Linked DNA regions of Homo sapiens: region 1 is linked to region 2. The links come from fine-mapping of genetic effects on gene expression. Tissue or cell type: whole blood. Region 2 holds a variant in brackets; the other region holds the start of a gene. All regions are shown on one strand. Distances are between the middles of the regions. Region 1 holds the start of BATF (basic leucine zipper ATF-like transcription factor). Region 2 has its middle 20 kb from the start of BATF.

The links.
Region 1: it holds the start of BATF, and the variant in region 2 is fine-mapped to the expression of BATF in whole blood (TOPMed, PIP 0.96).

What each region holds. Positions count from the first base shown.
Region 1 is chr14:75,521,289-75,524,201 of GRCh38, forward strand. It overlaps BATF (basic leucine zipper ATF-like transcription factor), which reads left to right and starts at 1,181. Exons shown (of 3, transcript NM_006399.5): 1 at 1,181-1,457. The coding sequence starts at 1,395. RefSeq lists an enhancer at 1,149-1,478.
Region 2 is chr14:75,500,988-75,503,900 of GRCh38, forward strand. No RefSeq gene overlaps it. Among named protein-coding and RNA genes, the nearest start is that of BATF, 20 kb to the right of the region's middle. The variant A/G (reference allele first, on the strand shown) is at 1,278.

The DNA.
Region 1 (2,913 bases), 20 kb after region 2:
TTGTCTTAGTCTAGAAATTCAGCTCATGGATACAAAAATCCTCTAGGAGCCGTAACTTCCTGTCAATCCTAAAATTTAATAAGGCAAATGTTTGGCTTCGAGCCATACTGGGAATAAGGTAAGGCCTTTTGAAAAAGCCACGATGCCCAGGTGAGGGTTGAATTGATCACTGAGAACCCTACAAATGCGCTCATGGCAAGGCTGGGAATACCCTACACTTACCCTCTCGGTCATTTACTTCAGAGTCTGCGGGGCATTCTAATCCGCGTTGTCATTTGCTTTGTGCCACATTCCTAAGAGGTAGGCAGGGCAGGTTTTATCATCCTCTGTTTACAGATGAAGATAATGAAGGTCACATAGCTCAAGTGAGCTACCCAGGGCCACAGACATACAAAGTGGTAGAACCAGAATTTAAATCTTGGTTGGTCTGACTCCAAGTGTAGTATTTGTTTCACTTTTTCTTTCTTTCTTTCTTTCTTTTTTTTTTTTAACTGTTTCTGCATTCTGGGTTCTGACCAGGTGACCTTGAATCATAAAGATTCAGGGCCTGTCTTGAGCTGCTCAATATGGAAGGCATCTTTTCTCTAAAGAGTGTGAGCTCCCTGCCAAGCAGCACAGGCGCTTAATAGGCTTTCAGAGCAGCAATTCTAGAACCTCCCTTGTGGCTTTCTGATCTCCCACAGCCCTTGTGTTTGATGGTCAGGAAAGGAGAATACCCTTGGATCGTCTTATCTCCAGACCACCCCGAGGCTGGCTGGACTTAAGGGGTGAGGAAAGACAAGATGGGTGAGCAGCTGCTTTCGGCTGAAAACCAGAAAGAAATCCCAGTGTTTTTGCTTTATTTTGGTTTAAAAATCAAGTCGTATGACAATGGAAACATTTTCCTGGTTGTCCTCTCCTCTCTGCCCATGTTGACAGAAGACGGACTTGCTAATTCTGGCTGGGGTTTTTCCCTGCCTGGGCTGTTTTTCTCTTTTATCTTCATCAATTGAAGAGGGCTGCTGTGTCTTTCAAACTGTCGGAAGGTATCTGTATTTTTTTTTCTTTCACATAATTCTGTAGGTCTTTTCCCAGATATGTATTTTTCTCTCTAACTTCTAACTCGCTGAAGTTTCCGCCCATGTGACTTCCAGCGTGAGTTACCAGAAACCACAAGAGAGAGAGAGAGCGTGCAAGCCCCAAAGCGAGCGACATGTCCCTTTGGGGAGCAGTCCCTCTGCACCCCAGAGTGAGGAGGACGCAGGGGTCAGAGGTGGCTACAGGGCAGGCAGAGGAGGCACCTGTAGGGGGTGGTGGGCTGGTGGCCCAGGAGAAGTCAGGAAGGGAGCCCAGCTGGTGACAAGAGAGCCCAGAGGTGCCTGGGGCTGAGTGTGAGAGCCCGGAAGATTTCAGCCATGCCTCACAGCTCCGACAGCAGTGACTCCAGCTTCAGCCGCTCTCCTCCCCCTGGCAAACAGGTAGAGTCCTCCTTTTTCTCTCTCCTACCTTCTGATTCTCCTGGGGGATGGAAAGAGAGCCAGGCTTCCTTGTCCTGCCCAGGGAGCTGAGGATGGAGGAAGTGGCTCGTTGCACGGGCACTCTGTTAGACTTAGGACATGGAATTTGCTACTAAGCTGTGCATATTGGCAGAGATCCTCATCCTTCCACCCATTCTGCCAAAGCCCCTTTTTCTCTCCATTTTCCAAGGCTGCCTATCACCTCTGCCTCACTGGGGTTGCCACCCTAAAAAGCTTTCTAGGAAGCAAAGAGGAGGATGAACATCAAAGAATGCAGAGAAAAGAGTCTACTGTTCTCCAAGGCTGTAGAAAAGTGAGAGGAGTTTTCAAGTGGGCCGCTGGCATGCACAGCTCAAATCCTAGATATGCAGTTTCCCAGGAGACAGCCAATAGGGAAGGGGAGAAAAGGGGTTAGGGAAAAGTTAAAAAAAAAAAAAAAGAAGAAGAAGAAGAGGAAGAAGGAGGAGGAGGAGGAGAAACCCAGGCTAGCATAGAAGGATCTCTCTACTGGGGCACTGCCTCTGTTGCTAGCACAGCCAGCAAGGGGAGATGCTAGAGGTCCAGCCAATATCTCTTTGCTTGTGGCTTCTGGATAGGAGCAAGGAAATGAATGAGGAGGTGGCTCTGGAAATTTGTTGGAAGACATTTGCTGGTAGTTCATCTTAGCTCTGGGGAAACCAGAGAGACTGAGATAGGGATTGTGGGAGCATTTGGAGTCTAGATTGTGACTTCCAAGTCCAAAGGTTTTAGCTTGAGGATTACCAAAAAAGGAGTGCCCTGCCCATCTCACAGCTTCTAGGGTTTTGTTCTGCACCACACTCTTGACATCCCTTGCTGTAGGAAGCCCTCCTCTTTCTCATCCGACATGTATCCGTGGGTTAAAATTTTCTCAACCTTCATAGTTTAAAAACTTCATTCTTTCCTTAGCACAGATATCCACAAGGGTTTTCAAAATGCTGCAGCCAAAATAAAAGTATATAAATATTGAACAGGGCGTATATCCTAAGCCTCTAATAACGGAGCAGCAGGCTGGGATGAGTCTGGGTGGAGACCTCTAGAAGGCACAGAATCCAGTCTGCTGCTCAAGATGGTGTCAGAGTGGCTCTGACTGCCTGGAAGTTTGTACTTTTCTTAGGAAGGAAATTACTCATGGCTTCCATGGTAACCTGGTGCCCCATCCCCCTTAGAGGAAGAGCACTTCCTTCCTATCTATGCCAATGACCTCCTACCACAAAGGCCTGAAAGTATTGGACATGTTGGTGAGCCCAGTACTTAGTGATCCCAGAGCTTTGCCCTTGGATCTGTGCCCCTCTAGCCTGTGGGAGACGTGGAAGGGAACAGGGCATGAGTTGCCAGGACTCCTACACCTACACTGCAGCATCTGGGAGAGAACTGGAGCTAACCTCTCTGCCCAGGC
Region 2 (2,913 bases):
ACTCCTTTATACTTTGAATATTGAGGAATTTAACTCAGTTATATTTCACCGCATGTTCTCCCTCCCAATTTTTATTTTTATATTAAGTCTATCGGAATCTTTATAACTTTAAATAATATACTTACATCTCAATTTCTTGGCCCGTCACCTTTTACAGTATGTCTAACTTACAAAGTGTAAGTTCAGGAAAATACACAAGGCAGACTTCCTTCTGCCTTGTAATGGACACTGTGGTGTGGCGTGCTGCCCAGATCCCTTTCAGGACCAAGGCCTTGATTCCCCAACTTTGGGGAGTGCTGGCAGCTAAGAGGTCTCAGCTGAGTCCCTCTCCAAGAATTGCTTTTGGCTGAAGGGAGTTACCTGGAGATTATGTGAGAGATTATGCCACCTCCCAGAGGGCAGCCCATATCCAGTGACTGGTCAGTATGGGTTATGTGTTATAATGGTGTAGCCAGCCTATTGGCCTCAATGGAGCAACTTTGAAGAGCCATCTGCCTCCTCCCAAACTTCTTGCAGCATTGACTGGGGCCTTGTATCTACTCACTCCTCCCCTGCCTGGTCTTGGCTCCCTCAACTCTCACAGGTGATGTTTCTGAGAACACTCTCCAACAACCTCCCTATACCCAAGTCTTAGAGTCTCAGAGTCTGTTCTCTGGGGAACTTATAAATACCTTCTCTGTATCTCCTATTTCTATTTCTGATTATGGTCAGCTAATAAACAATTACTTTTAATTTTTTTTACTGTGAAATATTTCAAACATACAAACAAGAAAATATAATAATAAAATTAAAACCGGAAGAAACACCACTATAAATAACATTGTCATTTTTTATTCTACCATGACTTTATTATATTACTTTACTATAACTTAGTCTTCCATGCTTTATTCAAAGATTGTTCCTAAGAATTGAAAACAGAAGACAGTAATTACAATAATTTTATTGTGTATTCTTTAGTGACAATCTAAATAGTGAGGTTTGACCTGCAGACAAGCAAATGTAATCCTATGCTATTCAAACTGAGCCGCCTAAAGGGAACTGTTGCAAGATCAAATGTCAAATGGATTTTTTTTATTGTTACAATCTACCAATTGCATAAAATTGTATTACATTTTGGTTTGCTTCTTTTTCAAATTACAACTTTCTATATAGATTTTTACTGGAGTCACCTTTGTTTCATCTTGGTGACAAAATAACATAAACTTTTCCTACTATGATCATGTAGCATTTTATCACCCATTTTTAAAAATTTTTGGGGAAAAAAGCAAATCAATCAA[A/G]AAGTTGCTATACTAGAACAGTGAGCCTCCATTCTGTAATAGGTTCACCAGTTTTAAACACAAACACACACACACACACACACACACACACACACACACACTCTTACATATTTCTTTGTAAGCCATTAGAAAATAACTTGTAGAGAACATGACCTATCAGTCTTAAGTACTTCAGTGTACATCTCCTAAAGACAAGGACATAACCACAATGTCATTATCACACCTAAGGAATTTAACAATAATTTAATAATATCATCTAAGATACTATCTATATATAACTTGTAGATAACATGACACATCACTCTTAAATACTTCAGTGCGCATCTGAAATTAATTCGTTCTGGCCAGGCGCAGTGGCTCACACCCGTAATCCCAGCACTTTGGGAGGCTGAGGCGGGTGGGTCACTTGAGGTCAGGAATTCAAGACCAGCCTGGCCAACATGGTGAAACCCTGTCTCTAATAAATATATAAAAATTAGCCGGGCCTGGTGGCAGGCACCTATAATCCCAGCCATTTTGGAGGCTGAGGCAGAAGAATCGCTTGAACCGGGAGGCGGAGGTTGCAGTGAGTCGAGATCTCACCACTACACTCCAGCCTGGGTGATAGAGCGAGACTCTGGCTCAGTAAATAAATAAATAAATAAAAATAAAATTGATTAGTTCTGCTTCTAATAGAACTAATTGGCCACATTCAAGGGCTCAATACCCACATGTAGCTAGTGGCTATCATGTTGGATGGTGCAACTTGAGGCAGTACCCTGATGCCCACCTTCATTTCTGCTCCGTTTTCTACTCCAGTCTTGGCACTTGCACGTTACTAGTTTTAGCCAAGGCTCTTTCCACCATGGTTTCTCTCTCACGATGGTTCTTTCATTTTCTCTTACCCAGAAATTATTCAGGCTGTCTCCTGACCTGCTCACATTTCTCCCTCCCATTATTAAGCTTTGTTATGAATCTGTTTCTCTCTGCATGTCTTCTCTGTCATCTCAATGGCACGTGAAGCACACGAGCTTAGTAGTCTGTCTTGGATTAGAGATGTGAGGGGGTTTTAAGAGTAATCTTTAGATAATAATGGAATTAGAAAGCCCACTGGTGCATCTATTTTCTCAGGCCTTAACTTTTTTTTTTTTTTTTCAGACAGAGTCTCTATTGTGCAGTGGCAGGATCTCAGCACACTGCAACTTCTGCCTCCCAGGCTTGAGTGATCCTCCCACTTCAGCCTCCAGAGTAGCTGGGACTACTGGTGCACACCACCACTCCCAGCTAACTTTTTTTTCTTTTCTTTTCTTTTCTTTTCTTTTCTTTTCTTGTGTTTTCTTTTCTTTCTTTTTGGAGAGATAGGGTTTTGCCATATTGCCCAGGCTGGTCTCAAACTCCTGAGCTCAAGCAATCCACCCGCCTTTGCCTCCCAAAGTGCTGGGATTACAGGCATGAGCCACCATGCCCAGCCAGTCCTTAACTTCTTAATCCTACCATGTATCTACGTGGATCCAAAAAAGCTATCCCTACCAGTAGAATGAGAGAGGAATAATAATCTTGTATCCTTCCAGATATATCCTTGAGGATAGTAGTGTGCATAGAGAGGCTGTTATATGCTTTATCCTGCCTACTTCCAGGGTGGCAATAAAAACAAAAT